7 linked regions of the Homo sapiens genome follow. The protein of the gene in region 1 purifies or fractionates together with the protein of each later gene. This does not show direct contact. Each region holds a gene or a part of one and is shown in the gene's direction. Other genes may lie near its edges. The genes, in order: PTPN2, ITGA1, HADHA, RCL1, DNAJC10, KLRG2 and NUP50.

Region 1 (3,500 bases):
GTTTTTAGGGCTTTTCAGTGGACAAAAGCTAAGGAACAATATGCATATGTTAAGATAACATACTTCAAGAGTTCATAATGATATTCCCAGTTCAAATTTGGAACTATAAGTGTTGCTTAGCCCCTTCCATCTTACATCTGCTATTTCCTTTTTCATACCAAGAATCCTGGTTCTCAAAGATATGAGAGATGTAAACTATCTTGTAATGACTCATTTCCTTCTTCCCATATCATATACAATATATAACCATAATCATGATATCATCTGCTACCAAAATAATTACTGAAAATGGTTTACAATTTTTAATATTTTTTTCATTCTCTTCCTGGTGTTTCTGAGTTGTACTTTACAAACTGTAGTCTCTCCCTTACATCTCTTGTAGACTCTTAGTTCTACAAGCAAGCATTATTTAATATTCATCAACAGTCTTTGCTGATGTCTCTCCAGTCATTCTGACTAAAGCTCATTCTCTAGTGGCTCCTAAGGAGGGACTTGTGAGCATTATAGTCTGATTTTTTTACATGTCAGTGATGGTTCATCTGCTGTCTTAATATCTGAAAGTCAGTTTGGCGGGATATAAAATCCTTGGCTCATGTGCTATTCTTTGAACAACTTTTTTTTTCCATTTCCTTCTGGTATTCCACCAAAGTCTAATGGACATCTTATTTCCTTTATAAGTCTCTTGTTCTTTTTATCTGCACTACCCAAAGAATTCTTTTTTTCTTTTTCTTCAGATATTATTAGTTTTACCAAAAATATGTCTTAGTAATTGGCCATTCTGGGTCAGTTTTTACAGGTACATGATGTGTTCTTGAGAGTTTGACTTCAAGTACTTTTTAAAATTTTTTAAATACTTTTTGTTAAAGAAATATTTGTTGAATTACAGTCCTTAGTATTTGTTCTGCTCCCTTGCTTGCTTTAATGTTCTTCTTTGGGTCTTCCTATTATACGTATGTTGGATTTTCTTTGCCTACCTTTTTTATTTGTCACGTTCTCTTTAATCCTGTTTATCTCTTTATTTCTATTTTACTTAAAAAAAATTTTTTTTTTTCTGGCCAGGTTGGAGGGCTTACACCTATAATCCCAGCACTTTGGGAGGCTGAGGCAGGAGGGTCACTTGAGCCCAGGAATTCAAAACCAGCCTCGACAACAAAGTGAGACCCTGCCTCTACAAAAAATACAAAAAGTAGCCAGGTGTGGTGGCACGCACCTGGAGTCCCAGCTGGGGTTGGGGGATTGCTTGAGCCCAGAAGATTGAGGCTGAAGTGAGCCAAGTTCACCCCAGTGCACTCCAGCCTGGGCTACTACAGAGCAAGACACTGTCTCTTAAAAAAAAAAAAAATTATTTATTTTCCTCTTAAGGCATTATTATTATTATTATTTTTTTTTTTTTTTGAGACGGAGTCTCGCTCTGTCGCCCAGGCTGGAGTGCAGTGCTGCTATCTCGACTCACTGCAAGCTCCGCCTCCCAGGTTCACGCCATTCTTCTGCCTCAGCCTCCCAAATAGCTGAGGCTACAGGCGTCCACCACCACACCCGGCTAATTTGTTGTATTTTTAGTAGAGACGGGGTTTCACTGTGTTAGCCAGGATGGTCTCGATCTCCTGACCTCATGATCCGCCTGCCTCAGCCTCCCAAAGTGCTGGGATTACAGGCGTGAGCCACCGCGCTTGGCCAGCAACATTTATTTTGAAGATAAAATTATTGCAAGAGTTTGATAATTTTAGAAACATAAAGTGAATGTCCCATGACGTTAAAATATAGGTAATCATGCTTTAAGAATGATAAATTTATTTTTATTTTATGAATATGATACCTATGGCTTTTTTAGTTTATAAGTTACAGGAACACTTAAAAAATACCTTATAAGACCGGACATGGTGGCTCACGCCTGTAATCCCAGCACTTTGGGAGGCTGAGGTTGGTGGTTCACTTGAGGTCAGGAGTTCAAGACCAGCCTGGCCAACATGGCAAAACCCTGTCTCTACTAAAAATACAAAAATTAGCTGGGTGTGGTGGCAGACGCCTGTAATCCCAGCTGCTCAGAAGGCTGAGGCAGGAGAATTGCTTGAACCCAGGAGGCAGAGGTTGCAGTGAGCCAACATCACGCCACTGCATTCCAGCCTGGGCGACAGAGCAAGACTCCAGCTCAAAAGAAAAGAAAAGCCTATGGAGACAGAAAATGGATCAGTGCTTGCCTGTGGCTTGGAGTGGGAATAGGACACAAGGGGATTTCTGAGTCTGAGAGAAATGTTCTAAAACTGGCTTACAGTGATGACTGCACACACATAAAAAATGCTTTATAAAATTTCAATCTCTACCCGCCCTGCTCCCCGAGATGGAGTCTTGCTCTGTCACCCAGACTGGAGTGCAGTGGAATGATCTTGGCTCACTGCAACCTCCACCTCCTGGGTTCAAGCGATTCTCCTGCCTCACTCTCACAAGTAGCTGGGATTACAGGCGCCCGCCATCGCGCCTAGCTAGTTTTTGTATTTTTAGTAGAGACAGGGTTTCACCATATTAGCCAGGTTGGTCTCGAACTCCTGATCTCAGGTGATCCTCCCGCCTCAGCCTCCCAAATTGTTGGGATTACAGGCGTGAGTCACCGCGCCCGGCTATAAAATTTCAATCTTACTAAAATACATTAAGCGTAGAATATAGTAGTGACTTCTTAGTTTTGGGTACTTGAAAAAATATAGCATGTATATATCTGGTTTGTTTTCATTTTTTAACTTTATGGTTTCATGATGTCTATAAACTAAAAAAAAATCATATACATATTTCTAAATTTAGGTTAAATGTGCACAGTACTGGCCAACAGATGACCAAGAGATGCTGTTTAAAGAAACAGGATTCAGTGTGAAGCTCTTGTCAGAAGATGTGAAGTCGTATTATACAGTACATCTACTACAATTAGAAAATATCAATGTAAGACCTTTCTTGCCCGAAATTGTGGACTTTATATGATGGTTTAAAGAATTATTCTTTATTATTAGATTTGAAGTTTGATAAGCACATGCATTTGGATAATTCCTATAGTATCTAGCCATAATCACGTGTTTTTAGATTGTGTGTCTGCATCTAGTAGCTTTCTGAGGACTCTGAAGAAACAGTAGAAACTAAGAATTTCAAAGTTCAGTTTGATATTTGGGGATTAAAAATTAATTAATAGAAATACATGAGGATTAATAGAGAGGGCTTTAGAATCAGGCAAACCTGGATTCAGATCCAGCTCTGCTGCTTAGTAGAGCTGTACTTTAGACTTGTTCCCCACCCTCACTGATCCCTTCCTCATCTGTAAAATGGAGGTTACCACGCCTTCCCTCCGGGGCTGTCCTGAAGGTCAAATGAGGATGTGTATGCAGAGCACCTGACCTTAGTAAATGCCCAGCAAGCAATAGCTCCCAGGACCTGTGACTGCCAAGAATAGCAAAATAGTCAAGAAAATAACTTACAAAGCTATTGTTAAGTGATTCACAACACAAAAATTTGTCCCTATT
Region 2 (3,500 bases), on another chromosome or scaffold:
AACTTATTTATGGCCTCTCCTGCCCCAAATCAAGGCATTGATGGCCCAAAATGATAGTCATTTCCCTATCATAGTCCAGGCTCCACTGACAGCAGAATGGACCAAACCGATATACTGGGACACGAAGACTAAGATTCACAATGCCTAACAAGAAGTGAGAGTGGATACAAGTGACAGATGATAGGAAAAACGTTTGGAAGCAAATAGTGAGAGTCTTGTCATGAGACCTGGACTGACTCCCAAGAAAGATCTGGCTGGGGCAGAGAGGATGTGTGGGGTGGACAATGGTCGAGGCAGCTTCATGCCTGGAGAATCCATATTACTAAGCAGGAAACTAGGCATGTTCATTCATTGCTGATGAAAGGGTAAACTGGCTAAAACTCATTCGAAGGTCTTTATCAATAAGTGTTTAAAAGCATTCCAATGTTCCTACTTTTTACCAAGGATTTAACTTCCTAAAAATGTAAAGATACAATCTAGAAGTACAATTAAAGGTGTCATCACAGCACTGTATGTAATACCATCTTTTAATAATGTTAAATTTACCACTATACTCAGAAACCTTTTTTTTAAATTAAGCTAAATATCCAATGAGATGGGATTGAATGCATAGATTATGGTATGTGCATATGCTGGTATAGTCTGCTTCCATTAAAAATAATAAATCCCATTAAAAATAATGTTCTCAGAAAAATGTAAATATTGGAAAGCTGTTCATTGTAATATAATGTTTTAAAAATTTGTAGGCATACATATGAAGATGTGCTTTTGTATATATGTATGTATGCATGTGTGTACGTGTATGCATGTTTTCTTCTGTAAAGAAAAAACCACTGAGTGTACTAAATGTTAATGATGATTATTGCTGAGTGGTAGTATAACAAGTTATTTGTGTTTTCTTTATGCATTTCTATGATGTTTATATTTTCTATGAGTCCATTGTTTTAACAGAAAAAAGAAAACCACCTTTTTTTAATGCAAAAGCATAAGTAGTGACCTCATTATTCACAACATACACAGTTATAAGGGGCTAGCTCTGGCCACAAGGCAGAAACCAGGTAAAAATGTGCAGTAATTGTTCCGGCTTGGATCTAAGACAATGACCTCAGTATCCATATATTCTCCATGTCTGAGATCTTACTCTGATCTCATTTTGGATTAGTAGACATTACTGGGCTTTCGAGTTAAAACGACTGAGTTTAAAATCCCAGGTTTTTCCTCTTAATAGCTTTTGACCTGGCATAAAATATTTAACTTTTCAGAGCCCCAGTTATCAAACGTAAAACAAAAAAATGATGTTGCTTATAATTAACCTTAAGAATTAAATGAAATAGCATCCATGTCTAGCACAATGCCTCAAATGTTATTTTGCTTTTCCTTCCTAGAAATAGAGGAAGAGCTGAACTCACAAGGACAGACAATATTACAGTCCAGACAAGAGATAGCAGGGGTCTACGGGCTGTTCAGGGACCTTTAGACTTCTTTCAAATTTGGAACAAACTCGTAAATCCCCAAAATACAGTTGATTCTGGGGTTTCACCTGGACACTTGATTCCATCTCTTTTCCATCACAGGAAAAACTAGATCTTTGGTGTTTGAACCAAAAGCCCCAAATGGTTTCCAAATATAACCTACATGTCTTAGAACATCAGATATAATCTCTTCTGTAACAATGATTAATTAAAGAAATGGAGTCCTGAGCGCTGTATTATACATGAAGCAGAACCCTCTTCCATGCACTCACTTTGCACTCCCAAGTTGATGACATTCATTAAATGTAAAAATGTGTGAGTAATCCCATTGTTTTTGTTTGTAGGTCCCGAGATGTGGCCGTAGTTAAAGTGACCATGAATTTTGAGCCAAATAAAGTGAATATTCAAAAGAAAAACTGCCATATGGAGGGAAAGGAAACAGTATGCATAAATGCTACAGTGTGTTTTGATGTGAAATTAAAGTCTAAAGAAGACACGATTTATGAAGCTGGTAAGCAAAATAATTATAGCAAGTACTTTTGGGTAGAGGACAATATATTTGCTCTAGCATGATGAAGTCCAGTAGGATATTGTATTTTCCCCACATGGTGAGCTGCACGTCATATTTGCCCCAGTGAAGATGCAGAACCTTGAAAAAAAATTCTGTTGCAAAAGGAATAGGTTATGGAACCCAGTCAATTCTGGAGCAGAAATTACATGTTTGTATGCAGTGCCCTCAACACTCCATAGTTTCTGTCTGGCTCTCCTACTTGCTATGTACAATGAGACGCTTAAGAAAAAAATACCGATTCAGAGGTAGAGTTTAGAAATTGAGCTACAAATGGGCCCAGTTTTCCTTCCTGTAGGTTTCTACCATGACTCTTCTCTCCCTTCTCTTGCCCCCTCTTGGGAAAGACTGATATTGCAGAGAACCCTAATACTTTACCATTCCCACATTTCCGAGATCCTTTGTTCCATTGAGGTGACCCTAGTTTCCGAGAGTCAGACTTGTTCTGTGTGTGTGTTCTCAGGTGCATCAGGTCAGCCTGTGCTTCCTCTTCCTCCCTCCGTTCTCCACTTTCTAAGGCAGCTTTTTAATGATGTTGAAATATGCTCGAATCAAAGCTATAAAGGCCATTGGCTAAAGAAGAGAAATTTACTCTGTAACCAAATACAAGCAGAATGAGAAAAGCCATTAATCCTTAAAATCTGTTTTTCTTGATTTGTTCCATATGTGCATGTATATGCTCTGAAATAGCCTCCTGACTAGAAAGATCAATGAGGTATAAGAACATAAAATAATGATTTTGAGTTTTATATGTAACTTTATTTCAGTCTTATTTAATTTTTGCAAAGTAATTAAGTGATCAAATAAGGAATATTGTAGCCTTCATATACAGTGTAAGATTTCATTTATTTTCTTTATTGTGGTATGCTTATTTTATTGAACCTTAATAGTGGTTTGACCATAAGCTGAGATAATGTCATTTTATATATAAATAGATTAAAATGTATATATTTGTAAATAAATAACTAAAGTATATTTTTGTCCCTATTGAAATATAACATAATCAATATTCTAAGCAGGGTTCCAACATTTCTAAACTTAAAAAGAATGTTTTAAGTGAAAATATAATAAATACAGTGGTGGCCTGGCAATTAGATGATAGGCAGGTGTGCATGTGTGTATAAGAATTATAAACAATAAATGTAATTAGACACTGAAAGCACAGTGAACTCAGAGACCAGTTCTATAGAGTTCCTCAAGGTTATCTTCATGACTGCTAATATCATTGTTATAACAGTGTGGATATGCTGAACAATAGAATCTTTTTTGATTGATTGCCAAAGAGATTTTTCTATAATGCTAATTTAATAATCTGTACAATATGAGAATCACTTCAAATAAACATTTCCATCAATTATTTTTTAAAATTTTTGTAGATTTGCAGTACCGTGTCACCCTAGATTCACTAAGACAAATATCACGAAGTTTTTTCTCTGGAACTCAAGAGAGAAAGGTTCAAA
Region 3 (3,500 bases), on another chromosome or scaffold:
AGTTCATAGGGTTGTAATGGATTAAATGTAAGGAATAAGTGGTAAATGTATTGAAGAGCAGGTAGATAATGAGCAGCCAAAAATTACAGATATCACTTGTTGTACCTTATAGCTAAAGTGAGAGGGAGAAAGCAAAACTATAAATTAATGAATTAGACTTCTTTCACCACAGTTCTGTTGGGAAGACTATGTAACTGTTAGCTCAATGAGGGGTTTCTCTGAAACCTTAGCACGCATCAGAATCACCAGGAGGGATTATTAAAACAAATCTGGGCCCCACCCATGGAGTTTCTGATTCAGTAGGGCTGGGCTAGGCCTGAGAATGTGCAGGCCTAACGCTCCCAGGTGATGACAGTGCTTGTTGGGTCCGGGTACTACACTTGGAGAACTGCTGGTTTAATGAGTCTTAAGTGCATCTGACTGTTGAGGAGTGTTAGTTAAACCTAGTATCCTGGTGGTGAGACCCATCTGTGTAAAATGCAAATACTTCTCTGACAGCCCAACACATTAATTCTTCTGCCTGCCCCACCCCCGCCCAAAAAAACTGGATCCTCTTATCTAAACCATCAGTATCATTAATATAAGTGGAACCTTCATCCGTCGTTCCCCAATAAATCTAGTTTGGCCTCGAGCTGTGGTTTTGGCACTGATTGTTGGGAGGATCAGATGTCTGTAGTGAAAAACCTTAGAAGCAAATGGAAGAGGAGGATTCCAATGTGCTCTCCCTAAACATACTAAACTTTTATCAAAGACCCATGGAACCAAACCACTCAGCTATGTCAAGCAGTATTCCTATATCACAGCCACCTTTCTTTCTAGTGTTTTCCTAGCAGAGAAGGAATGCTCTCAGGTTCCTCACCCGCATTCTCCGATCTGTTGGCTTTTGGTTCCCCTTGCCAGGTGATTGGCATGCACTACTTCTCTCCCGTGGACAAGATGCAGCTGCTGGAGATTATCACGACCGAGAAAACTTCCAAAGACACCAGTGCTTCAGCTGTAGCAGTTGGTCTCAAGCAGGGGAAGGTCATCATTGTGGTTAAGGTAAGGGGCTGTATAACAGAGCTGCAGAGTTTTTGAAAAGTTCTAATAAGACTCCTTTTACCTCCAGGCTTGTTTATAAATATTCTGGGGCAAATGACCAGACTTTGATATGATTTTCCCCTGGGTTGTCTCCAGGATGGACGGTGGTATTGACTGTCCCACTGAGTCAAGGTGGGAGTGGGGAGTATCTAGGATGTGGCAGGGTTCTCCCAGCCATCCCAGACCTTGAAGGTGACCATGAAACTATCTGCTGTACTGTTTGATTCAAGCCAGGCTACCCCTAGTACGGCTTCCCCTGCAATTTCATTTTTAAGGATTCTGATTGAGATTTTAAGTCACCTTAAGTTTTACAGTGACTTTCAAATGACTTTGAAGTGACCCTGGGAAAGGTAGAGTGTTTCAGACTCAGTCCCAGCAGCAGGGCCAGGGAGCTCATGTTCTCTTCCTTGGCAGGATGGACCTGGCTTCTATACTACCAGGTGTCTTGCGCCCATGATGTCTGAAGTCATCCGAATCCTCCAGGTTGGTATTGCTCTCCAGAGTGTTTGCGGCATCTTCCACTCCTTCAGTCACTCTAAAACTCATGATGTCAAGATAAGGACCAAGCTTCCTTCTGATACACCAACTCCTGCTCTTGTCTAGGAAGGTCCCTGGTGCCCTCTCTCTGCACAGCAGTCGGAAGTTGGGCTTATACTGCACTGAAAGGGGCAGAGCTTTCCCTCTGCCCCACAGCCTCCTCACTGTTCCAGCAAGCTAAAGGCACCCCACCCCCCAGCATGTCTTCTATGCTGTTTCTGCACCTCTCTGAGGCAGGGACCATCCAGAACAGGGCCCGCTTGGTTCAACTGGTGCTGCATCTGTTTCCACAGCACACAGACCTCTCCAGTAGCCATCGAGGTCATTCTGGCAGGAAAGGAGAGGGATCCTCCTCGCTGGGCACTTACCCAGACTTGGGGATCACAGGGCTCTGAGTGCTCCTCTTTGATGATGTTTCTTCTGTTGGTCATGACACACTCAGCCGTCTGTCATGCAATCTCCTTATTATTGAGATTCAGAAATGCAAACAAGAAGAAAATGAAGAATTTAGTCATCTCTAAACGTCCTTAAAGTGCTGTAGATTAGAGAAGGCTCAGACTTTCCACTTGTGGCCCCAAACTTCTTTGTGCTTCCCTGAATGAAATAGCACCAGTCCTGGGCCTGGTCAGGTGACACTCAGAAGTGGGTTTTACACAAGGCAGTGTTTGGAGCCAGTACAGGGAGCCCTTTGGGGGGATTTGGGCTGCCCTTCCCCTGAGGTCCCTGCATCGCTTCCTGTTCAGGAAGGAGTTGACCCGAAGAAGCTGGATTCCCTGACCACAAGCTTTGGCTTTCCTGTGGGTGCCGCCACACTGGTGGATGAAGTTGGTGTGGATGTAGCGAAACATGTGGCGGAAGATCTGGGCAAAGTCTTTGGGGAGCGGTTTGGAGGTGGAAACCCAGAACTGCTGACACAGATGGTGTCCAAGGGCTTCCTAGGTGAGTAGCCTCAAGGAAACATAACTAGCACCATTAGTTACAAAGTTCTAAGCAGTTCCTGAGACCAAAGAGTTACAGAAGCCCTCGTGGAAGAAAGTTTTCTAAACACAGAGCCCTTATCACTGGCGATTTCAAAAATGATTTTATGAGTCAGGTGCGGTAGCAACCACTTATGGTCTTAGCTGCTTAGGAGGCTGAGGTGGGAGGATCGCTTGAGCCCAGAAGTGTGAGGCCAGCCTGGGCAACATGGCGAGGCCCCTTCTCAAAAAAAAAAAAAAAAAAAGATGTCATGTGAACCTTCTAAGGGCTAGGACTATAGATTATGGACAAAAGGCAGAGTTCTACCCTTCTGGGGCTCTAGCATCACCTGGTCCAAGTTATGCCAGATGGACAAGCATTTTTATCCCCCAGAGATGAAATCTGCAATAGTGCAGAAGCAAGCTCTGCATCCGGGCTTTACCATGCTGTCTGGCCACCTGTGAGGAGAATGTATAAGCTCACCATACACAGTATACAGTTGAGGCCCACAGAGAAGTGACTTTCTGTCTTGGCAAAACAGCAAAATCAGCATTACAACCTGGGTGTTCTAGGACCCGGTGCTGCATATGGGGATGTTAAAACTCACCCAGGTGGCCTTTCTCATCCATGTACACAGATGCCCAAGCTCCGGGTCACAAGATCTTCTTTCCTTCTCTGCCCACTCTTCTGACAAAGACTAATTTGCTAGGGTTAGCTAGACATACAAATTCAGGAATTCAGAAGAGGCCAGAGCTTTATAATAGACCAACAGAGACAAGAATTCTCAGGTCAGGGTCTTTTTTGTTTGTTTTTTGTTTTTTTTTGAGACAGAGTCTCACACTGTTGCCCAGGCTGGAGTGCAGTGGCATAATCTCGTCTCCACCTCCCGGGTTCAAGCGATCCTCCTGCTTCGCCCAGCTAATTTT
Region 4 (4,282 bases), on another chromosome or scaffold:
CTGGGGAAAGGACAGTCTCTTCAATAAATGATGCTGAGAAAATTGGATATCCATATGCAAAAGAGTGAAACTAGATCTCTATCTCTTGCCATTTACAAAAATCAAAGAAAAATGGATTAAAGGCTGGGAGTGGTGGCTCACACTTGTGAGGCCAAGGTGGGCCAATCGCTTGAGGTTAGAAGTTTGAGACCAGCCTGGGTAACATGGCAAAAACCCATGTCTATACAAAATACAAAAATTAGCTGAGCATGGTGGTGCACACCTGTAGTTCCAGCTAATGGGGAGGCTGAGGTTGGAGGATTACTAGAACTCGGGAAGTTGAGGCTGCAGTGAGTCATGAGCATGCCACTCCACTCCACTTTATAACACACTGTTGTCTACATAAGGCTAGCTACATCCCTTAATCTTAAACTCCCACCGCTTTCAGACACTATCATACCCCGCCCCCCTTCCCCCCGCGAACCCCCGTGCATTCTGGGACTCATGGTTTGGTGAGTGTTGTCCAGGAATGGCTACAAACCCACATTACTATGATATCGGACTTCTACTTGTGTAGTCATTTGTTAGTTAACTGTACATTTTGGAAGGTTTTTGAGTAGAGAAGTGAAATAATCCAACGTTTGGGAAGATTTTCTTGTGCAGGATTGGAGGAGGACGGGAAAGAGGGAAAAAGCATTGCGCGCGTGTGTGTGTGTGAAGTTATTACAACTATCTATCTTGAAGCATGCGAGGTAGGAGGGCCTGAATTGCCATGAAACGCAATGACGATAAACGAAGGGACCCGTGAGAAAGGGGCAAAGAGGTGTCTCAATAAAATAAGCAACGGCCTGCTGTGGGAGGATTCGGGTCTCAGTATAGGCTGCCACTGTCAGCTTTGCAATATTCCTCGAGCCTTTATCCATGAGTAGGACAGGATGGCTCTACCTTGCAGGGTTACAGCATGGAGCTGCGGGACTGCGCCGGCAGTGCGCTGAGCGGCATCCCTGCGATAGGGTGAGTGCACCAACCCTTGTTGTCTCTCTTAGTAAGAAAGAGGAGGGGTAGATAATAGCATCTTCACCCCAGTAGTTGCCGTAAGTAGTAATGCTAAGAATCCGGCACGTCGTAGGCATCAATCTCAGTCCGCCATCTCCCCTTGCTACCACGCCAGGAGGTACACAGAGGAGACTGCCCCGACTGGCAACTCCCGCGCCGGGGTTCCCTGGCCATCCTCCCGCGTTCCCTCCAGCCGCGCGCTGTTGCCAGGGCCCGGGCACCGCCCAGCTCCACTACGGACCAATGGCAGCGCGGCTTGGGCACCGCCCAGCTTCAGCGGAAGCCAATGGAGGCGCGGCGCGGGCACCGCCCTGATCCGGCGCGGGCCAATAGCGGCGTGGCCCGAAGCGGGGGCCGCCCCGGTCGGGCGGGGAGGCGGGGAGGTGGCCACTGGCTCCGCCCCGCTCCCCTCTGACCCGGTGTCTAGTCTCTCCGTCTTCCTGTTCCAAACCACGTGGACGCGTCTGGGCTGCTGGAGGCAGCCCGAGCCGCCGCCGTCGGTGTCGCCGCCACCACCACCATCGGAGTCACGAGTCCCGCGTCTGTCCGAAGTCGCCGCTCTCGGGCTGCTCACGTCTCTTCGGAGAGCGCGCACATGGCGACTCAGGCGCACTCCCTCAGCTACGCAGGGTGCAACTTCTTGCGCCAACGTCTGGTCCTGTCTACCCTGAGCGGGCGCCCCGTCAAAATCCGAAAGATTCGGGCCAGAGACGACAACCCGGGCCTCCGAGGTAACTTGGTGTGGGCGGCGCGCGGCGTGGGCGCGGGGGCTGAGGGGAGACCGAGCTGATGCCGTGGGGGCCCGCGCGGTGTTGGTTGGGCGGCTCGGCGTCCGGCGAGCGCGTCGGGGAGGGCAGGTGGCGCGTCGCCTCCAAAGCCGGAGGGGCAGGCACAGTGGGGGAGGCGGGGTCGGGGCCCGAGGGGAGCGCTCAGCTGCAAGCTGCGCTCGGCGTCTCCGGGGCGCTGGTAGTAAACAGCTGCACGTTTTCCAGCTTTACGTGTAGCAACAAATCCCTGGCGTCGCCCCTTCGCGTCCCTTCGGCCCCTCTTGCCCTCGCCATAAACCTCTCAAAGGAGAAAAACAGTTTGTTGGACCGAAATATGGTGAATGAGCCGGGGGAGAGACATTGGGAGAGAAAAGTACCTTGGGTTGGTTCTCTGCCCTGTCTCAAAGCAGTTCTCAGAAGCAGCTGCCCCCTTGGACACCGGCTGTTCCTGTCGCCATGATTTCTCGGCTGCCCTCACACTTGTCCTTGGGTGTGGATAAAGAAATTTTTAAAATTCTGTGTTTGTTTTCAGCCGTGACTGTGATTGATGTGCGCAGGACAGGAGCTTTGAGATAGACTTTTAACAGTCATGGGCCTAATTGCCTTGACTTTAGAAAAGGGGTCGGTGACAATCGCTAAACTGCAGGCTTCCAAGCTCACTTCTTGCTCTGCAATGGTAGGTTAAAAAGAAATAGGCCCATTTAAACCCACATCTCATTAAATGGCGCCGGTTTTCAACTGGCCTTGGTTTACACCTGGCCCCCTGGCATGAGATACATGCATTTAAAAGCTTCTGACTGGTGGTTATCCCAAGTTGGGCGAGTCAGTAGTCAGGTGAAAAAGGAAAAAACCTGTCTGTAAATTGAAAAAGAGTGTTTGTGGTTGGTCCTGGAAGCTTCCTGAGCGGCGCTGATGTGTTTCATTTTGCACTGGCTCTTGTTTTATCTGTCTGAATGCATTTTTTGGATAGTTAGATCTCTGCCTCTCTTGGGTGGTGATTGGCTGCACATAAAGGGCAGAAGATGCCATGCTATTGACGGAGATAGGTTAGGAAGGAAAGAAGCAGAATATCCCAGGTACAGTGGTGAGAAACCTAGTGATGGTAGGAAAAACTTGTGTTGGTGGTTCCTGTCCTCTCTCTACTGCTCAAAAACACTGAGAAAGTTAGGGAGAGACCACAAATGGTTTATGCCACGACTTTTCCGTCAACAAGTGTTCCACTTAGTTTGACCCTTGGGCAAAGTGTTTGCTTGATTGCTGTGTGGCATTCTCAGCCAGCTCTCCATCCACTTTACCCTCAGGTTAGCTCAGAGAACTTGCCACTAGCTGGATATGGTAAGAAGATGGACTTCTACTTTGTATAAAAGTAGGCATAACTTTTTTTTTTTTTTCCAGAGAAATGGAAGTATAGCCTGGAAACCTGGGTTCTCTAAAATGAATCTAGTTCTATTTAGAGTTTTTCTATTGACAGGTGGCCTCCAATTTAATATTTAATGTTCCAAAGTATGCTTCTCCTTCTCCCCCTCCACTGTATGTGAGCATCTCTTCAAAGCATCTCACACATATGAGCTCCCGTTTCTTCCAAGAACAGGGCTTGGCCACTTGGCACTTTCTTGAAAGGGTGTCAGACGCTGATACCTGAGGGAGGTAGAACTGCTTGGCAGGTGTGCTGGTATTTTATGGGGAACATTACTGTAGAGCATTATTTGCCTTACCCCGTTCATATACCAGGGGAAGAAAGAGACTCCTAGTTATTTGTACATCCTTGCGCTGGCTTCAGGGCCTCAGAAACCTTGTAGATGTTTGTCTGCTTAATTTCTTTCTTTTTTTTTGAGACAGAGTCTTACTCTGTCTCCCAGGCTGGAGTGCCGTGGTGCGATCTCGGCTCACTGCAACCTCCGCCTCCTGGGTTCCTGCAATTCTCCTGCCTCAGCCTCCCTCGTAGCTGGGATTACAGGTGCCTGCCACCATGCCCAGCTAATTTTTAGTAGAGTATTTTTAGTAGAGATGGGGTTTCACCATGTTGGCCAGGCTGTATGAAACTGCTGACCTCAGGTGATCCGCCTGCCTTGGCCTCCCAGAGTGCTGGGATTACAGGTGTGAGCCGCTGCGCCCAGCCTGTCTGCTTAATTTCTTACAGAGGGAACAGAGAGATAGATATGCATTTGCAGATATACATGTATATGTGTATATGTATACACATACATGTAAGTGTATATACATATACGTGCACGCATAAATAGATGTAGTCCCTGACACATGATTTCTGGTCATAATCAAGGGAGTCCTTGGTAGCTTGATTGAAGATGTAGCCGGAAGCCTATGTTGCCCGTCATCTGTCCCTTTCTGACTTTTCCTAACTCAGATTCTCAGAGTTGGAAAAAACTCAGAGCATATCCAATAAAATCTTCAGTTCTAATGCAAGAATCACATCTCTTCAAGGTGCTTGCTTAAAACATCCCTCATGGTGTGGGCTTTGG
Region 5 (2,854 bases), on another chromosome or scaffold:
AATACATGTTCAAAGAGTAAATTAAAGAAAAAAGAGATGCTCAAGTCAATTTATAAGTAATCCTCACAAATGCTTGCATACCATCAGTGAACAATTATTTTTTTATCTCCATGCTATAATCTTGCACAAGTTTCATTAGAATTAAATGCACTATCTGAAGTCTATGTTTATTAAATGAGGATTACAGTAGTTGGTTATCTTTGTGAGGGGTTTTGAGGGTTGTGGAACAGGATAACATTTTGAGGTACAAAAAATAATGAAGAGGATATATTCCAATTTCTTTCCTTCCCCAAGGCTTTTCATTACAGCTGTTATAAACCCTGGTAGAATTGATTGGTTTCCTTTTCAGCTTCCTGTTTTGTCCCTCAATGTTCACAAAAGTCCCATCTGATAAATGTATTGTTTAACCTCTCATTGTTTGAAAGAACACCTCTTTGCTCCCCACAGATTACAGACCTATTGGCTTAAGCAGTCCATCTAAATGCATGCCAGTTTCTTTCTTGATAAATTAGAGGCCTATAACCTCAAACCAGTTTATCTGCAAGAGAAGTGTGTGAAGTTAGACTCAATTCTTCCGCTAATGGAACATCGTAATCCTCCTTGTCATCTTTCCTTTGGCCTTCCTGAATAGAAATCATTTATGAGGAAGTTACATGAGCTCAACATGAGCCCCATGTCACTCAGCAAACATTTATTTGAGTACTTACAATGTGCTAGGCTTTGTTCTATGCATTTAAGATAGTGTATTAAATGTATTGACCTCATGAAGATTCTATTCTCGCAGTGGGGAGATAGACAATAAACAATTAATATAAGCAAATGTTAAGTATGTTAGAAGTATGTTAGAAGATGTGCTGTGAAATAAAGAAAAAGGTAGACCAGGGTATGAGGGATTAGGAGTGTGGGGGCAGCAGCAGGAGAGTTTCGGTATTAAATAGGGTGGACAGGGCAGGTCTCTTGGAGAAGATGCCATTGAAGGAGGTGGAAAAAATGTAGCCACTAAATGGGCTGAGGGTAGAGCATATGAACAGAGAGAAAGGCCAGAGGACAGGCTCCAAGGCATGCTTGGCAGGTTCAAGGAACAGCAGGGAGGCTCATGTGGCTGGAATGGAGTGAGCTAGCAGGAGAGAAGATGAAGTTAGAGGGAGAGAGAAAGTGGGGAGCCAGATCATAGAGGGCTTTGCAGGTCACTTGTAAGGACTTTAGCTTTCTAACTTTTGTAAGGACTTCAACTTCTACTCACAGTGAAATTGTGAAATTCCAGAACCAAAAAGAAGATCCTGGTAAAAGAGAAACTTTCAGCAAAATATATTTAACATTTTATTTGAGTGAAGAACAATTCATCCATCAGGCAGCACTGAGAACCAGAAGACATTCAGAGAGCTCTGCTTTGCGAGGTATGCAGTGAACATTCATAGACAGAAAACAAAAATTAAGTACAGAAATAGCTTGATTGGTTACAGATAGGCATTTGCCTTATTTGGACATGGTCTGCTCCAAATAAGGCAAGTTGGCAGCATGCAATTGGCTGTGACCTATCTGTTACAAAAATATATCTATATAATCCTAAATTAGGTTTCAGTTTATTTAAGTACTAAATTAGGTTGCAATTTATTACATGGGAACTCAAAGTCTGGAGACAGCCTCAGGCCAAGGTCCTCTTGCTTATTTAATTTAGCAATCCTAAAATTTTCCAGAGAGGAAACACATCACACACACACACACACACACACACACACACACACACACACACACTACCTACAAAAAAATAACAATTAGAAAGTAATTGGAGCTTGAAGTATTCTAGAAGACTTTGGAGCAAAGCCTTCCAAATTCTGAGAGGAAAATATTTTTAACCTAGGATTCTATTCATACCTACCCAGACTAACAAGTAGCAGGCAGATGATAAATATATTTTTAGGTGGTTAGGTGATGAAACACCTCCTCCAAATGAAGGCATAAACAACAATGCATGGGGATCCAAGAAACAGTGACTCCAACCCAAGAGAGCAGTGAACAAATCCACAGGACAGCAGCTAAGTAGGAGGCCTAAACATCACCTGGGGCAGATGGGGCGAGAGAGCAGAGAGCTTGGGAAAGAAGTCTCTGAGGAGAAAGAATGAGGCAATAAGTCAGATGCGTATTTGCGGACCTCAGAAAAATTTGAGTACATAGGAAACAATAGATGAAGGATAGAAATAATCCATTCAGATTCTCTCCTTTGCATGATGACCACATTAAACTTACAGAGTAAGAAATGTCATTCTAGATTTGATTCTACTGTTTGTCTTTGCAGTGAGCTATGTTTTTTTATAACATGTAGAAGTGAAATAAACTTGTCACAAAAATGCAAATTGTGTCACCAATTTTCAGCTTAACAACATAAAAATAATTATATACACTGACCCAGGTTAAGGACGGGTAGAAGTACGAATGTCCTTATCTTCCAGAGTGAAGTGAGGCTGTAGTCAGGCATTGCAAACTCACATAGTTAAGGGTGTTTTGTAGGTAAAGTACATGACGGTAGTTAGTGCATGCACTATTTTAAAAAGGCAGTAGTTTCTCTGCTCCAAAAGAGTATTGTCATGAAGAAAGAGACCCAGATGTTCCAGTTTACCCAGAATTTACCCCAATCCGGGTTTTTATGTAAAATATTTCAAATGTTCACAACTACTTAAAACATTTAAATATATGAGGGTCAAACAATACCATATCCAGCCTGGGGTTTCCAGTTTGTGACATTGCTACAGCAGATGGATAAGAAAATGAAGTAAGGTGTTTGAATGTATGAAATTAACCAGTATAGATGTTAAACTGGCAGCAGCAGCTCTAGAGTATGGAAGGGCCATCCGGT
Region 6 (3,500 bases), on another chromosome or scaffold:
TATGCTGTGAATGGGGGAATATGCCAGGGCACCAGTAGCCTGTGAGGGCAAGAGGAGCTCAGTAGGGATCAGTTTCTGCTCAGCGCCTGGGCTGGGCCCTGAGGTGTTGGCGTTGAGATGGGAATGGGCTGTGCAAAGAAAGCACCCCAGGCTCCTGTACCAAACGACTCAGACTGGTTGTATCTGCAAATTGAAGGCCTGTAGGAATGTAGGTGGGACCAAAGGTGGTCTCTAGAGTGCCTAGAGTTAGGGCCAGGAGCCAAGCAGGGCGGGGATCATATTGTTGCAGGGACATAGTTCATCCCATTACTTACTTATGGAATCCCATCGCTTAAGACTGATGAACATAGCATTTTGTCCTGAGACAGACAGATTGAGCACAGCAAATGCCAACAGGAAGCCAGTAAAACGGGCCTCACATCAGACAGGTTCACCTCAGATGAGCTTAGAACTCCTTGTTGCCAATGGGGGGAGGTGGGTTTAACTATCCAAATTGGAAACAGAACCTGAGATAAAGAATTTAACAAAAAAATGCATACAGCATCAATCATTTGAAACATAAGTAAATCTGCAGAAAACATATCATAGTCTGGGTAAACCCCTTCCCTGCAAAAAGACCAACGCTAAGATTCAAGATCTAGGCAGTTAAAATCTGGAATATAATGATTGTGGAACTCTGGAATTTTCCTGAGTTCTGGACAAGGACCGGAAGCTCCTGCAGGTGCTGAGGCAGGGTGGGGAGGACAGGACACACACGCAGAAGCAGCGCGCACAAACCCCAGGAACGCACCAGGGCCAGGGTGCCCAGAGGTACAGGATAGACGTGGCTCATCTTCCCAGAAGCCTGTTTTGCTCAGGATTAGTGAAAAGTAGGAAGTTGTAAGTGCTCACCATTAGTTTAATAACAACTTTGCTTTGCAGAGTGGAGGAGGGAGGAAGCTACCTTAACAGCACACACTGAACTCGAGCCCGATGCTAATTTCAAAAAGATTAAACCATTGAATACATTTACATCCTAGGATTAAGAAAAGTAATTTGAAACATTTTAATATTAAAACAGACATGGATGAAGATAGAGAGTAGAATGGCTGTTGCCAGTGCAGCGGGGGATGGGGAGTTGTTTAATGAGGACAGCTTCAGTTTGGGGAGGTGAAAAAGTTCAGGAGATGGATGGTGATGATGGTTTTACAACAATGTGGATATACTTCATGCCCTTGAACTGTACACTTATCATGGTTAAAATGGTAAATTTTATGTCATTAAACTTTTTCTTTCTTTCTTTCTTTTTTTTTTTGAGACAGGATCTCTTGCTCTCTCACCCAGGCTGGAGTGCAGTGGTGCAATCATGGCTCAGTGCAGCCTCGACCTCCCGGGGTCAAGCCATCCTTCGGCCTCAGCCTCCTGAGTAGCTGGGAGTACAGGAGCGTGCCACCACACCTGGTTAATATTTGTATTTTTTGTAGAGACAGGGTCTCACTATGTTACCCAGGCTGGTCTCAAACTCCTGAGCTTGAGTGATCTGCCCTCCTCAGCCTCCCACAGTTCTAAGACCACAGCTGTGAGCAGCCATGCCTGGCCGTGAATCTTTTATCACAATTTTTAAAAAAGAAATGTATGAAGGCATAGGAAACAATTTTCTATAATTTTAAGACGTAAAATATGAGATTTTCAGTCCATTCTGCTCAGGATCACATTCCCTCTCCCCATATTAGTGGAAAAGTTGGAGAATCCACAGTTAAGGAGGCCTCAGGATCTTTTGCACAGAGCAGTCCTTTTAGCCATAAATTACTTAGTAGTTCCCAGAGTTTATTTATAACTCTGAACAATGCCTTCCCTACACCACCATTTTTGCTAACAATGAGATCAGGAGTCTCAAACGCAAGGAAAAGAAGAATGGAATGGAGTGGGTGGGTCTAGGCGGGGCTGGGGCTCGGGGGAGGCCTTCAGCTCCCGTCACCAGGAGGCCCAGAGGGGAAGGGTGAGAGAGGCAGATAGCTTGGGGCTCTGACAGAAGGACAGGGTCCTCTTGAGGTTGCTGTAAGCATCAAAGGGGCTCATGTGTGTAGGAGGCAGGTCACAGGCTTTGCCCATCACATGTCAGACGCGAGAGGACATGGGATGAGTGTGTACTAGGTGGCCGTGGCTTTATATGTTAGTATCTCAAGCCTCATCACAAGCATCTTCGTTTTACAGACGACCACACAGCGGCTCTGAAAGGTTGGGTAACTTGTCTAAGGTCATGTGGCTCACAAGTCATGGAGCCAGAATTTGCATATGGGGTAGCCTGGCTCCATCTCAGCCCCGGAAGAGGCACTGAGCCCTGGTGTGCCTTCCCAAACAGGCAGCTGAGTGCTCCCAGGAAGACGGTGTTGGGCCGCTCAGCCCTCTGACTCACACCTCAGAGCAGCCTGGGGCCCTCCCATCCTCTCCAAGTTTCCCTGCCCAGCCCCACCCTGGGCCCCAGTGTGTCCCCGAAGCACCAGCCAAGGAACAGCTGCCCAGTGTACATTCTCTGTTCCGTCCACTCACCACTCTCCATTTTCCTATGCACTCTGGTCTTTAGGATTCAAGAAGGGTAAGATTAGCAACCTTCAGCCTGGGAAGTTGCCCCTGACTTCTCTCTGGGCTGTTAACTGACTGGTGCTAACCTTGAGGGGCAGAAGATGGGTTTTCCGTGACACTTCTGGGATACACAGTGGCCTGATGGCCTGGTCTCACTGTGGCTCTGCTGATTTTTGGCAGTGAGCGCGGGGAGGCAGTTTCACTGAGTTGACCTACTGTGTACTGGGTTATCATAGTGCGATGCTGAGTAAGACAAGCTCCTGGCCCGCACCAGGTTCACCAACTAATACAGGAAAGTGACAAGGAGGCAAGCCATTAGAAGGCAGCACATGAGTGGTGGCACGCACCAGCAGTCCCAGCTACTTCGGAGGCTGAGGTGGGAGCATCGCTTGAGCCCAGAGGTTCAAGGCCAGCCTGGACAACGTAGTGAGATCCTGTCTCTTAAAAAATAAAAAAGAGAGGCTGGGTGCAGTGGCTTATACCTGTAATCCTAGCACTTTGGGAGGCCGAGGTGGGTGAATCATCTGAGGTCAGGAGTTCAAGACCAGCCTGGCCAACATGGTGAAACCCCATCTCTACTAAATTGGGCGTCATGGCAGGTGCCTGTAATCCCAGCTACTTGGGAGGCTGAGACAGGAGAATTCCTTGAACACGGGAGACGGTGGTTGCAGTAAGCCGAGATTGTGCCACTGCACTCCAGCCTAGGTGGCTGAGCAAGACTCCGTCTCAAAAATAAAAATTAAAAAAATAAAAATAAAAAAGAGACAGCTCTATTCTGTGAAAGTTGTGGAAACCAAGGGGAGGGAGGAGCACCTATTTCACCTTGGAGAGGGTCAGCCCAGTGTCCGTTAAAAAAGCCACCTTTAAATCAGTTCTGAAGGATGGAGGAGGTGGCAGCAACAGGACAATCATCACTCTAATTCCCAGGGCTTGTCTTT
Region 7 (3,500 bases), on another chromosome or scaffold:
CCCACCTCAGCCTCCCAAAGTGTTGGGATTACATGCGTGAGCCACCACACCTGGCTGAGGACTGCATTTCACAGGTGTAGAACCTGCAGGTACAGAGGGGCGACTGTACTTTAATACTGTTCATCCCAACAACCTTGGGGATTAAGTGTTAATGCTGACCTGCTGTTCTAACAGTGCTGTTTGAAATAGGCATCCTTTTGTCTACTGCCACACCACCCTCGACGCGCCCGATCACATCTCAGATAGGCGTCCTTTTGAAGGAAAAGATTATTTTTAAAATGTGTAGAGCAAGCATATGGTGGTTAGTGTTCTTGTATAAACTTTGACTTGATCTTTATTCATCGGCTTTACTGATAACTGGTTACTAAATTCTACTCCTTGAACACATACTTTTTGAGCGGTCACAAAAATAGGGCACAGTAGGTCGGGCGCAGTGGCTCACGCTTGTAATCCCAGCACTTTGGGAGTCCGAGGCGGGCAGATCATGAGGTCAGGAGTTCAAGACCAGCCTGGCCAACATGACGAAACCCCATCTCTACTAAAATACAAAAATTAGCCGGGTGTGGTGGCGGGTGCCCGTAATCCCACCTACTCGGGAGGTTGAGGCAGGAGAATCGCTTGAACCTGGGAGGCAGAGGTTGCAGTGAGCCAAGATCGTGCCACGGCACTCCAGCCTGGGTGACAGAGCAAGACTGTCTTGGTGTGGGGGGAGATACAGTAAAAGCAGAAAGTATGAAGGCAGAGTGGCAAAAAAATCTAGATGATTTAATCAAATTAGGCTAAATAAATGGTTCAATTATTAACTTTCTATAGGTTCTCTTGCTGCAAATGGCCCTACCACCTTGGTTGATAAAGTTTCAAATCCCAAAACTAATGGGGACAGTCAGCAGCCCTCCTCCTCTGGCCTTGCTTCCAGTAAAGCTTGTGTCGGAAATGCCTATCACAAGCAGTTGGCCGCCTTGAACTGCTCCGTGCGGGATTGGATAGTGAAGCACGTGAATACAAACCCCCTCTGTGATCTGACACCTATCTTTAAAGACTATGAGAAATATTTAGCAAACATTGAACAGCAACACGGGAACAGTGGCAGGAATTCTGAAAGTGAATCTAACAAAGTGGCAGCTGAAACACAGTCTCCTTCCCTTTTTGGCTCAACAAAATTACAGCAAGAGTCAACGTTTTTGTTTCATGGCAACAAAACTGAAGATACACCTGACAAGAAGATGGAGGTGGCATCTGAAAAGAAAACGGACCCATCATCACTAGGAGCGACAAGTGCCTCATTTAATTTCGGCAAGAAAGTTGATAGCTCTGTTTTGGGCTCATTAAGCTCTGTCCCCCTGACTGGATTTTCTTTCTCCCCTGGAAACTCCAGTTTATTTGGCAAAGATACTACCCAGAGTAAACCAGTCTCTTCACCATTTCCCACTAAACCATTGGAGGGCCAAGCAGAAGGTGACAGTGGTGAATGCAAAGGTAAGTACCAGCTTTGTCGTTGAGTCGAGGTTTGCATAAGATTCTTGTTTCTTGGGAAACCCAGAGACTTTGATTCCAAATATGAGTCTGGATTCACATTGAGACGTTGTTCTCTCCATGTGTGATCTCAGACAGAGCTAATCAGCTTCTCTGAGTTTCAGATTCCTGCTTTATAAAAGAGTAAGACTTTTGTAGGGTTGTTTATAAGGATTAAAAATAAAATGAATTTGAAAACACCTGACTTTGAAAAGTCTCAAACACACATGGTTTAGCATATAAAAAACAAGTGAATTAAAGACGTTTTTTGAAAATTGTGTTTTTGGAAAAGTTCATCAAGTTCATCATGAATGTCCCCTGAATTGATTTGTACTTAGGAGATCTCACTGTAAATAAAGTCATGTGGCAAAACAGTACTTGACTATACATTACAAATGTAGACTTTTCATAGCCATAGAGAAGAAATCAACATTGTTTTCCTCCTGTGGGTTTGGAGGCGCCTCCTTTCCAGAGCGTGGCAGTGGTGTCTAAGTGATGTTTCCTGTGTGTATCGTCAGTGCCCCAGACAAGGCACAAGGTCTGGGCCCTCCAGACCTCTGTTGTTAGCTTAAAAAGTGGGGTGATGTCATGATGCTGCTTCCTCACATGGTGGTTGTGAACAGGTGATGTCTGTGAAGACACCTACTTCTAAGCAGTTGAAAGTGAGGCCAGGTGAGGTGGCCCACACCTGTAATCCCAGCACTTCGGGAGGCCAAAGTGGAAGGCTCACCTGAGGCCAGGAGTTTGAGACCAGCCTGGGCAACATAGCAAGACCCCATCTCTACAAAAATTTTTAAAAATTAGCCAGGCCAGGTGGTGGGCGCCTGTAGTCACAGCTACTCTAGAGGCTGAGGTGGGAGTATCTCGAGCTCAGAAGTTCAAGGTTGCCATGAGCCGTGGTTGCATCACTGCACTCCAGCCTGGGCAGCACAGACCTTGCCTCAACAAAAGAAAAAGTGTACTTCTCAGACATATGGACATACTGATCCTTGAGGAAGAAAACTGCATTTGCCAATTTGCCTCTGAAATATTACGGTTTTCTATCAGGAGTCTAGACTTCCATTACTGTTTTGCCTTGCCCTGCTTTCAAGTATATCCTCAGGCACGGGCCCTCTGGGCACAGGGTGAAATAAGGGTCTCCCCTTTTCTTTCTTCTCTGCCTCCCATAAATAAAACAAATGGGGAGTCTTTCCTGAGGCAGGCACTGGGGATTTGAATCGAGTCCCAGTGGAGGCAGGATGCCCCTCAGTGAGCGCCTGTTCCTTGTCCCTTGGTTATCACAGTTTAAGCATCAGAAGACTCGGGAGATTGGAGGGATAAGACGGACAGTCGTGTGACCTAATCATCTGAGCATCACAGTTGTTTTTCTTAGAATTGCTTTTTGGTGAGTTTTTATGCAACTGCCGTTCTCTTTAAGAGGATCCTTTTATATATGTGGGGTTTTTTATTTTTTTGAGACAGGGTCTCGTTCTGTCACCCAGGCTAGTAGTGCAGTGACGCAATCATAGCTCACTACAGCCTCTACCTCCTGGGGTGAAGCAATCCTCCCACTTCAGTCTGCCAAGTAGCTGGGTCCACAGGCACGTACCGCCACACCTGGTTAACTTTTTTATTTTTTGTAGAGATGGGGGGCGTCTCACCATGTTGACCAGACTGGTGTTGAACTCCTGGGCTCAAGCGATCTTCCTGCCTTGGCCCTGCAGCGTGCTGGGATTACAGGCGTGAGCCACTGTACACAGCCTAATACATGTGTTTAAATGATGGCCTAGGTCTCCCGTGTTTGGGAGACCCCGTTAGTGGGGATACCTTTGGTACCAGAGCAGTGACCCATGTGGCAATTCAGACAAAGCTTAAATTACTTACACTGGGGCTTTGGAATGATTTTTCTGACAACTTGTCCCCTGTTAAAAAAAAAAAAAGTATTTTTCTATCTTTGGCTATTACTGATACTTGTAGATGTAGTCACAGGAATATTCAGGGGTGAAGGT

What was found.
Region 2: the proteins of PTPN2 (region 1) and ITGA1 purify together in Homo sapiens (co-immunoprecipitation; one study listed by IntAct). This does not show direct contact.
Region 3: the proteins of PTPN2 (region 1) and HADHA purify together in Homo sapiens (affinity purification with mass spectrometry; one large-scale study listed by BioGRID and IntAct). This does not show direct contact.
Region 4: the proteins of PTPN2 (region 1) and RCL1 purify together in Homo sapiens (affinity purification with mass spectrometry, with the first as the bait; one large-scale study listed by BioGRID). This does not show direct contact.
Region 5: the proteins of PTPN2 (region 1) and DNAJC10 purify together in Homo sapiens (affinity purification with mass spectrometry, with the first as the bait; one large-scale study listed by BioGRID). This does not show direct contact.
Region 6: the proteins of PTPN2 (region 1) and KLRG2 purify together in Homo sapiens (co-immunoprecipitation; one large-scale study listed by IntAct). This does not show direct contact.
Region 7: the proteins of PTPN2 (region 1) and NUP50 purify together in Homo sapiens (affinity purification with mass spectrometry; 2 studies listed by BioGRID and IntAct, with this or other methods). This does not show direct contact.

What each region holds. Positions count from the first base shown.
Region 1 is NC_000018.10:12,825,238-12,828,737, reverse strand, and holds part of PTPN2 (tyrosine-protein phosphatase non-receptor type 2), read left to right. Parts: intron 1-2,793; coding exon 2,794-2,928; intron 2,929-3,500. UniProt on the Homo sapiens protein: Non-receptor type tyrosine-specific phosphatase that dephosphorylates receptor protein tyrosine kinases including INSR, EGFR, CSF1R, PDGFR.
Region 2 is NC_000005.10:52,916,916-52,920,415, forward strand, and holds part of ITGA1 (integrin alpha-1 precursor), read left to right. Parts: intron 1-1,816; coding exon 1,817-1,983; intron 1,984-3,416; coding exon 3,417-3,500. UniProt on the Homo sapiens protein: Integrin alpha-1/beta-1 is a receptor for laminin and collagen. It recognizes the proline-hydroxylated sequence G-F-P-G-E-R in collagen. Involved in anchorage-dependent, negative regulation of EGF-stimulated cell growth.
Region 3 is NC_000002.12:26,192,633-26,196,132, reverse strand, and holds part of HADHA (trifunctional enzyme subunit alpha, mitochondrial precursor), read left to right. Parts: intron 1-900; coding exon 901-1,041; intron 1,042-1,494; coding exon 1,495-1,563; intron 1,564-2,360; coding exon 2,361-2,556; intron 2,557-3,500. UniProt on the Homo sapiens protein: Mitochondrial trifunctional enzyme catalyzes the last three of the four reactions of the mitochondrial beta-oxidation pathway.
Region 4 is NC_000009.12:4,791,462-4,795,743, forward strand, and holds the start of RCL1 (RNA 3'-terminal phosphate cyclase-like protein), read left to right. Parts: upstream 1-1,482; 5' UTR 1,483-1,630; coding exon 1,631-1,766; intron 1,767-4,282. UniProt on the Homo sapiens protein: As part of the small subunit (SSU) processome, it plays a role in 40S-ribosomal-subunit biogenesis in the early pre-rRNA processing steps at sites A0, A1 and A2 that are required for proper maturation of the 18S RNA.
Region 5 is NC_000002.12:182,792,111-182,794,964, forward strand, and holds the end of DNAJC10 (dnaJ homolog subfamily C member 10 isoform 1 precursor), read left to right. Parts: 3' UTR 1-2,354; downstream 2,355-2,854. UniProt on the Homo sapiens protein: Endoplasmic reticulum disulfide reductase involved both in the correct folding of proteins and degradation of misfolded proteins.
Region 6 is NC_000007.14:139,456,174-139,459,673, reverse strand, and holds part of KLRG2 (killer cell lectin-like receptor subfamily G member 2), read left to right. Parts: intron 1-3,500.
Region 7 is NC_000022.11:45,177,425-45,180,924, forward strand, and holds part of NUP50 (nuclear pore complex protein Nup50), read left to right. Parts: intron 1-813; coding exon 814-1,476; intron 1,477-3,500. UniProt on the Homo sapiens protein: Component of the nuclear pore complex that has a direct role in nuclear protein import. Actively displaces NLSs from importin-alpha, and facilitates disassembly of the importin-alpha:beta-cargo complex and importin recycling.